Homo sapiens: one gene and its partners. The protein of the gene in region 3 interacts with the protein of the main gene of each other region in a biochemical or structural test. Each region holds a gene or a part of one and is shown on either strand. Other genes may lie near its edges.

Region 1 (2,236 bases), on a different chromosome or scaffold from region 3:
GTTTTGTTATAAGATATTGATTTCATTTAGATTTCCCTCCACGAGGTCAGCAAACTATCATGTTCTTATGTAAACTTAGGCCAAGGCCAGAGTTATCATAGTCCCTAGGTTGCTACGGCTTATCATGTGCTTGGTAAAAGGTGATCGCAGGTTCTCAGACGAGTTTACTTTACATGAGATGGAATCAGGCAGAGAGGCTGGGATGATGGAGAAAGCTCGAGGTGAAGTTTTAAAAAAAAAGTTGTGGAAAGGAAAGTTCCAAAGAGGTGGTTTCTGAGGAAGTCAGAGCGCCCAGGGCCAGAGCAGTCAGTAATGGGTGAATGAGGTTGTTTGGAAAGTCGGTGTGACAGACACATGGATGCCATCTACTTCTAGGTTGCTGGTGGGTATTAAATATGCACAATATTCCATAGCTCACTGAGGATTTTAAAATTATAAGCATAGGATTTTATATTTTGGGGTGAAAGAATTATCTGGCACATTAGGTATTGGAGTTTAAAAAAAAAGCCAAATTTCACAGTCTTAATAACTTTTTTTAAAAAAAACTAAAAGGCGCTTCATGTCCAGTGTGTGGCCCTTCTGAAACTTATGGTCATCTCTCCCACTGAAACCAAGGTCTTTTCAAATGTGGCTAAATGGGGATGAGGAGACACGGGTAGGACTTTCTTGGTGTGTGTGCATTCTTTAAAGAGCCAAGTTGCTTCGGGGAAACAGCCAGGAAAATGGTCAAGATTATTTTTAGAGGTTATTTTATTGGGGATTTTAAGAACTAATAACATCTTGAGTTATTTTTAATTCAGGGGGATGTGGAAAGGTTTGCAATTGTCAAGTGTTTTGTTGTAGCTTAGTATCCATAAGGGAAACTTAGACTATAGACATAACTACAAAGCCAGTGCAGCTTTTGTTTTCTGTATGTTGTTGGGGGATCAACTTTCACACATAGCAAGCACATGGCCTCCCTGATGTCAGGATGCCTTTGTTAGGATCTGTATTTGCCCTTAATTTTGTTGAAATCTTTTTTCCTTCTTCCTCTTGAAAAGTTCCAAAATATAGTTTATTGTATCTTTCATCACTAAAAATTTGTTCCTTTTTCACTATGGGCAGTTCACACAAGGCAAAAACTATTGAACAGTTGGTTTTAGTGTGTTGTATAACTTTGCTGTATATCAAACTAATTTTGACAAGTTTTCATCCTAAGCCTCAAATCATGTAATTAATAATTTGCCTGTTTATTTATGACCTAATTGTGATTCTTTTATTAATAAAAGCTAATGGGAAAAGGATCCCTGATTAAGCTGATGACTAGACCTACAATTAATTTTCCTGCAGTATATGAAGTATTGTACCAGAGTATTAAAAGATATGTAATATTTTATTGATAAATCTATCCTTTAAAAGGAATACGTTTTAGGATGTCATCATTTTGATGTGAATCATGTAAATGTTGATAATATGCTGTTTATTATACATTTAGTGTTTCAAGAGATTCACTTAATTGCCTTTTTGCCCACGTATATTATGTAGTCTATTTGCAACTGTTCTTAAAAAAATGACATTAAAAGAATAGTTTATGTAGAGAAACATTAGTGGATGTTAATTGTCTCCCCACCTATATTTATGGGTGTTAGCGCAACTGCTTTGCTAGTTGCAAAGCTGTATTATCAGAGTAAAAGTGTATTTGTAAACTGTATGGGAACTAAAAATTAGGAATAAAACCATTTTCTTATATGATGGCATTTGTCGTTTGCTTCATCAGAAATGTCCAGGAAAAAAATGGGATTATTGGTCACTCCACCTCTCACACTGGCAAAATACTGACATTTAGCAGCTCTTATCTAGAAGTGACTTGGAACATAGAATAAAGGCATGAGTTCCTGAAGAATTCATTGAGTGTTTCCTGTAGAAATAGCTTTAGGAGATAGGGAGTTCTATCTGGGAGAACATATGAGTAACTCAAGAGTAAAAAGTATAGTCTGTGTAAACTATAGAAGAAATGCTGGGCATGGTGGCGCGCCCCTGTAATCTCAGCTACTTGGAGGCTGAGACGGGAGGATTCCTTGAACCCAGGAGCCCAGGAGTTTTAGACCAGTCTGGGTAACATAGTGAGACCCTTTCTCACCTACTCTCACTGCATGCCCCCCAAAAATATATATGTGCGCGCACGCGCGCGCACACACACATACACACACACACACACACACACACACACAGAGGAAATTGTTAGAAAACACACAGA
Region 2 (3,500 bases), on a different chromosome or scaffold from region 3:
CTGTGACCTCAGTCTCCTGATTAGTTGGGATTAGAGGTACCCGCCACCATACCTGGATAATATTTTTTTTTTTTTTTTGTAGTAGTAGTAGAGACGGGGTTTCACCATGTTGGCCAGGCTGGTCTCGAACTCCTGACCTCAAGTGATCCACCCACCTCGGCCTCCCAAAGTGCTGGAATTACAGGCATGAGCCCACCACACCCGGCCAGATGAATCAGATTTAACACCAGATATGTGTCTTTAAAGGAGACCCAACTCATAATATCAGCATATCCTGACTGGATTAACTGGTGGAAATCAGAAGGAAAGCAGACTCCTCAGTCTTTACTTAAAGACAGAAAACAAGCAAATTCCTGGTTAGGGGAACAAATGATGACTGGTACGGACACAGAGGGCTAACATTCAACACTGGCTGCCTCCAACAGGGCACAATTGGATAGTAGTTGAGAACTACCTTCTGAAGTACCATTTCCTGGGTTCAAATCTTAGCTACAGGGTTGCAGGTTACATGGCCTTGGGCACATTCCATAACCTCTCTGTACTTCAGCTTGCTTATCTGGGGAGAATAATAGTACCTACCCCAGGATTGCTGGGAAGACAGCTAATCTAATATACTTGGAATACTTTTTCCCATCTGATTTTGAAGGTTTTGTTTGTTTGTTATTACTCCCCCCTGAACAACTGAATTAAGTGTCTTTGTGAAAACTGAAAGCAAATGGAAAATTTCTTCATGAAAATTGAATACCCTTCACCTACTTGAAAAAGGTTAATTATTCAAGCACTTGATTTTAATAAAGCCAGTGCGTTTGCTTGTGCTCATGCTAGAACAGACAGGGAGTTACTCTCTGTTTTCGTCCTGGAAGCCTGCACTTTGGTTTGGTCAGGCTGACCTCGCTGGTCTCAATTAAGTCCTCCCCACACCCTCTCAGACTCCTGACAGAGAAGGAGCAATCCTTCCCCCTGAAGTCAGCATTGTCACAGAAGGAAGTGGGAAGGGAGGGACCACCCGGATTAAACTGAATGACTAGGCTAGAAATAAAAATTCTTCCGAGTGTGTGCAGGCCCCATACTATCCTTGCCCACATAGCTGGGCAGGTTGCCATGGTTACTCCCCTTCCCGCATCCTTCTACCCTGGAAGGAAGCCTGCCTCTCTAGGGGAAGTAGAATCTGAACAAATTGCTTCCTGGTCTAAAAATGGAAGTTACTAAGTGAAGTAGAATCTCCTCTCTACTTATATCACCCCCTCCAAACTTATTTTAATCCCAATACTTAATTTTCTAACCTTCCTAGTTCTTGCATCATCTAGATAGCAAAACATGAAAGCTTATGAAATTTCTGGAACCTAAAAGTTACTACCTCAATATAGAAGCAGCCTGGCAAGTTTTCCCTACTACATTTGTACTAGCTAGCTAGGGGCAAGTGATTTTTAACTAAGTCAACTGGTAAAAATTCTAAGTGAATGGGGCAGGCTGAGTGAGTGTTACGTTGAAGGTAAACAATGTATGAGGGCTGTCACTTAGATTTTCAGGTAACCATAGAGTAAAGGGAGCAGGTAAATAGGAAGTAACAATCCTAGAATGCTGGATTTGAAGCACCTTTCAACCTAGAAGAAATCTGGATGAGGGAAATATGGTTTAATGTTGTCTCTTGGTAAAAAACTACCCTATTGCTACCTAGCAATATGATGCAAAATGTTAGTCCCAAAAAGACTTTGATCTTTATATGAAAGATGAGCTGCCATACACAAGTTTGCATTTGACAAATTAATTCAGTCTTTCAAAATTGGACATTTAGCTTGATGTGTATTTCACAGCTTGAGGGAACTCATCTAAGACAATAGTTCTCAGAGCTGATTCCCAAACCAGCAGCATCAACATCAGCTGGGGACCTGTCAGAACTGCAAACTCTGGAAGTAGGGCCCATCCAGCTGTATCTAAACTAGCTCTCCACCACGTGATCCAAGAGTAACTTTCATAATTCAGTGGTTTTAGGATTCACTTCTTCAGTGGAAATCATAACAAAGTATTTGAATTCCTTCAGTCATGGAGATAATAAAGCAAAAGCCTTTAAACACAGTGCAGTTTAACTGAATCTTAGGATGCAGAAAGATTAAAAAGCATGGGATTTGGATATTTTTCCCATATACCAAGTATGACTTTCTTGATCCTAGGAAATCCAATATACTTTTGGTTTGATATTATCACCTCACTTCCAAATCTTTTCCCCTCTGCTGGGGTTTTTAAAGAGTATAATTAATCTTCATTTATTAGGAGACTGTCCCACTTACTTCTTTTAAAAAGGATTCCAGTAAACTAGATCATTACCCTTGAACCAGATGGTTTTCTCTAACCTATAAAACTTTTTATTTTGTTTTTATGCCATGTCTAGAAGTGCAGATGAAGTCCTCTCCATAAATGAGTCTACTTCATTTAGTTTTTGTAAAGTTTAATGGCTAACGAAGCACTGCTCCTTTCTCCCATTCGACTTTCACTTTAAGTAACTTGAAATAGAAAAGATATCTCTATTTATTGGCTCCAATATGATGAGTATCTTGCCCAAGGTGTTATCATTAAGTGGTAGAGCCAGGATTCAATTATGAATCTTTATGATTTGCACCTTGGCGTTTATCTGAATACTTAGCAATTACCTACTATGTGAAGTCTGATGCTAGGTTAGCAATGGAAAATCTCCCAGTGAGCAGAAATCAAAACAAAAGTCTTCCTCATGTGTGGCAAAGGACATAGGATAGAGAGTTAAACAGACTTACATGTGAATGGCAGTGCTACCATTTCTTGGGCATGCTATTCAATGTCTCTGGCCCTTAGTTGTCTCACTTACCTTGCAAAAACAGTCCTAAGAATGCCTGATGTCAAACAGAGATCACATCTCAAACTGAAAAATACAAGGGTGTGATGTACAAGTATATAATTGGAACTCTGATTTTGAAAAGCCAACATAGATTCATGGTTAAGAGCTTGGGTTCTAAGCTGCAAATGACTGTGCCCACAGCCTAGCTTTGCCATGTAAGACAAGCTATATAAGGCCTGAGCTTCATTTCTCCATCAGGAAAATGAGTTGCCTCGATTTTAAAATTAAAAACTCTTCAGAACTCCTGCGGCTGCTTCTGAAATTTACCTGTCCTAGAAATGCAATTCTCAATGCAATAACTAAGCTGATATTTTTTAAATGGTCTTGTTCTCATTGTTTTTGAGTATCAGGCAAGCTAAATTCTAGAGATGCACACATTCAGGCTGAAAATTAGAAGACTGTCTTTCCTATATATCTTTAAACTATTAAATGTGAATAATCAAGGAGGAGAATGTGGCAATGCTTCATAAATCAGTAGAGGCACACAAATACTAACTTTAAGGTACCACTTAAACCTCATCTGAGCAGGGCAGTTAAGTCCTCTTAAGGTCTATAGTTAATCCATACCCAAAGAACTGGAAAGTGAATAACTTCATCCCTAATTGTGTCCATATTGAACACAGCTGCCCTC
Region 3 (3,500 bases):
TTCCATTGTTTATAAGTATCACATTTATCTACTCTACTGTTAATGGACATAGGGTTGTTTTCAGTTTTGAAGATTACAAACAAGGCTGCCATAAACATTCATTTTTTTTTTTTTTTTTTTTTTTGAGATGGAGTCTCGCCCTGTTGCTGAGGTTGGAGTGCAGTGGCATGGTCTCGGCTCACCACCATCTCCACCTCCCAGGTTCCAGTGATTCTCCTGCCTCAGCCTCCCGAGTAGCTGGGATTACAGGCGCCCATCAGCATGCCCGGCTAATTTTGTATAGAGACGGGTTTCGCGGTGTTGGCCAGACTGGTCTGGAACTCCTGACTTCAGGTGATTCACCTGCTTTGGCCTCCCAAAGCTCTGGGATTATAGGCGTGAGCCACCATGCCCGGCTAAACATTCTTATACCTATTTTTGGTGAACAAATATACAAATTTCTCTTGAACACACACCAAAGCGGAATTACTGAATCATAGAATAGGTGCATTTTTAGTTTTCATTGATTCTGCCTAACAGTTAGTTAAGTCCTTTTTTTTTTTTTTTTTTTGAGACAGGGTCTCACTCTGTTGCCCAGGCTGGAGTGCAGTGGGGCAATCTCAGCTCACTGCAACCTCTGTCTGCCGGATTCAAACAATTCTCCTGACTCAGCCTTCTGAGTAGCTGGGATCACAGGAGTGCGCCACCACACCTGGCTAATTTTTGTATTTTCAGTAGAGATGGGGTTTCGCCATGTTGGCCAGGCTGGTCTCAAACTCCTGGCCTCAAATGATTTACCTGCCTCAGCTCCCAAAGTGTTGGGAATACAGGCATGAGCCACTGTGCCCAGCCTAAACAGTTACTTCTTAACATTGCAGTTCTCGGCATCAGCTGCCTCTGAGAATTACCCGTGGGGCTCCACAAATAGTCATGTACCACAGTAATGGACTGCATATAGGACAGAGGTCCTACAAAATTATAATGGAGCTGGAAAATCCCCATCACGTAGTGCTGCTGTAGCTGTCATCACGTCACAGCGCAACACATTACTCACATGCTTCTGGGGATGCTGGTGCAAACCAGCCCACTGCACTGCCAGCTGTGTAAAAGCATAACAGTACAATTCTGTTCAGTACATAATATTTGATAATGATAAACAACTGTCACTCATTTCCGTGTTTACGATATTATTTATCATTAGAGTGTATTCCTACTTATAAGAAAATGTTAACTATAAAATAGCCTCAGGCAGGTCCTTCAGGAGGTAACCAGAAGAAGACATTGTCATCATAGGAGACGACAGCTCCATGTTATTGCCCCGAGGACCTTCCATGGGATGAGATGTGGAGGTGGGTGATAATGTCATTGACCATCCTGAGCCTGTTTCAGCCTAGGCTAATGTGTGCATTTATGGTTTTTGTTTTTGTTTTTTTTTTTGAGACGGAGCCTTGCTCCAGGCAGGAGTGCAGTGGCGCCATCTCGGTTCGCTGCAACCTCTGCTTCCAGGTTTCAAGCGATTCTCCTGTCTCAGTCTCCCAAGTAGCTGGGATTACAGGTGCACACCACTACGCCTAGCTAATTTTTGTATTTTTAGTAGAGACAAGAGTTTTGCCATGTTGGCCAGGCTGGTCTCGACCTCTTGACCTCAGGTGACTCACCCACCTCGGTCTCCCAAAATGCTGGGATTACAGGCATAAGCCACGGTGCCCAGCCTACGTCTTAATTTTCAACAAAAAAGTCAATGTAAATGAGAGTTTTGAAATTTTAAAACTTGAAAAAAAGCTTATAGATTAAGAATATAAAGAAATAAAATATTTCTGTACAGCTGTACAATGTGTTTGTATTTTAAGCTACATTTTATTACAAAAGCGTCAAAAATTAAATTGTTTATAAATAAAAAGCTTATAAATAAAAAATTACAGTAAGCTAAGGTTAGTTTATTATTGGAAAAAGAAAATTTAAAAAATAAATGTAGGGTAGCCTAAGTGTACAGTGTTTGTAAGGTCTACAGCAGTGCATAGTAATGTCCTAGGCCTTCGCACTCATTCACCACTCACTCACTGACTCACCCAGAGCAACTTCCAAGCCTGCAAGCTTCATTCATGGTAAGTGCCCTATACAGGTGTACCACCTTCTTTTTTTTTTTTTTTTTTTGAGACACAGTCTTGCTCTGTCACCCAGGCTGGCATGCAATGGCGCGATCTCGGCTCACTGCAACTTCCATCTCCCGGGTTCAAGCGATTCTCTTGCCTCAGCCTCCCGAGTAGCTGGGGTTACAGGCGTGTACCGCCATGCATGGCTAATTTTTGTATTTTTAGTAGAGACAAGGTTTCACCGTGTTGGCCAGGCTGGCCTTGAACTCCTAACCTCAAGTGATCCACCCACCTCGGCCTCCCAAAGTGCTGGGATTATAGGCATGAGCCGCTGCCCCCAGCCCATTTTTTTCTTTTTATACCATATTTTTACTGTACCTTTTTAATGTTTAGATACACAAAAACTTATTGTGTTACAGTTGCCCACAGTATTCAGTAAAGTAACATGCTATACGGGTTTGTAGCCTAGGATCAATAGGCCACACCATCTAACTGAAGTGGGCTTTGTGTATACACACTTCATGAGGTTCCCACAATGACGAAGTCACCTAATGACACGCTTCTCGGAACATATCCCCGTTGTTAAGCGACGCATCGCTATTTTCAGCTGCCTTCTGGGTATTTTCTCTGGGTTCTTCCACTGATGTCACACAATCAGTAAGTCTGAAAACAAGTTCTATTTTTTTCCCCTTCAAGCCAGCTCCGCCTTGTGATTTTCCAGTTTTTATCAATGGCAATCAGGTCTCGCAATATATCCTGATTTCCCCCTTTCTTTCATTTTCACTGTTTTTTCCCTGATTCGGCCCTAGCTGTTGCTCAGCTGAATGTGCACAACGGCCTCCTCACCGATGCCCCTGCCGCGTCCTCATCCTTTACCACAATGCCCACCACAATTCTGCACATGCCACTCTGATGCACCAGTGCCCGGCAGAGCTTGCAGTGGCCCCCTGTGGCCTGTCATCCTGGCATCTAGGACCGGCCACTCTCCCATCTCAGGCCCTCCTCTGCCTCAACTTAAACTCACATCAAAGCAAACCATCCTTCACCAGCCTGCACAGGGATCCCCAAGGACCTGCTCTGACAGTGCCTTTGGGCCAGGTGACCTTATCCACACAGCAGGCAGTGGACCCTGCGGAATGGGGTGTCCCATCCTGGGGGTCCCAGCCTCGTGGGTGACAGCAGTCCGGGATCTCCTCCTGTCCTCTCAGTTGTATTCTCTTCCTCTCCTGCTCTGTTCTAAAATCCACCCAGCGCTTGGCCTTCCTCTCCCACGTCCAGTTCTTCACTTTCTCCTGAGCCCAGATGGGGCCCAGAACTCTTTCAGATGACACTTTGAACTTGCGCTCCATTGCCCTAGGCTTCTAGTGGGCCTGGGTACCTCACCGTCCCAGCCATTTGACCCTTGAATCCTGCCAGGGGCTGGCTTCC

What was found. Proteins that work in one complex are often made in the same cells at the same time.
Region 1: the proteins of INPP5D (region 3) and PTPN11 interact in a test that uses a peptide from one of them, tested with the Homo sapiens proteins (one study listed by BioGRID).
Region 2: the proteins of INPP5D (region 3) and DAB2 form a complex in vitro, tested with the Homo sapiens proteins (one study listed by BioGRID).

The regions. Positions count from the first base shown.
Region 1 is NC_000012.12:112,508,183-112,510,418, forward strand, and holds the end of PTPN11 (tyrosine-protein phosphatase non-receptor type 11), read left to right. Parts: 3' UTR 1-1,736; downstream 1,737-2,236. UniProt on the Homo sapiens protein: Acts downstream of various receptor and cytoplasmic protein tyrosine kinases to participate in the signal transduction from the cell surface to the nucleus. Positively regulates MAPK signal transduction pathway. Dephosphorylates GAB1, ARHGAP35 and EGFR.
Region 2 is NC_000005.10:39,418,481-39,421,980, reverse strand, and holds part of DAB2 (disabled homolog 2), read left to right. Parts: intron 1-3,500. UniProt on the Homo sapiens protein: Adapter protein that functions as a clathrin-associated sorting protein (CLASP) required for clathrin-mediated endocytosis of selected cargo proteins.
Region 3 is NC_000002.12:233,171,842-233,175,341, reverse strand, and holds part of INPP5D (phosphatidylinositol 3,4,5-trisphosphate 5-phosphatase 1), read right to left. Parts: intron 1-3,500. UniProt on the Homo sapiens protein: Phosphatidylinositol (PtdIns) phosphatase that specifically hydrolyzes the 5-phosphate of phosphatidylinositol-3,4,5-trisphosphate (PtdIns(3,4,5)P3) to produce PtdIns(3,4)P2, thereby negatively regulating the PI3K (phosphoinositide 3-kinase) pathways.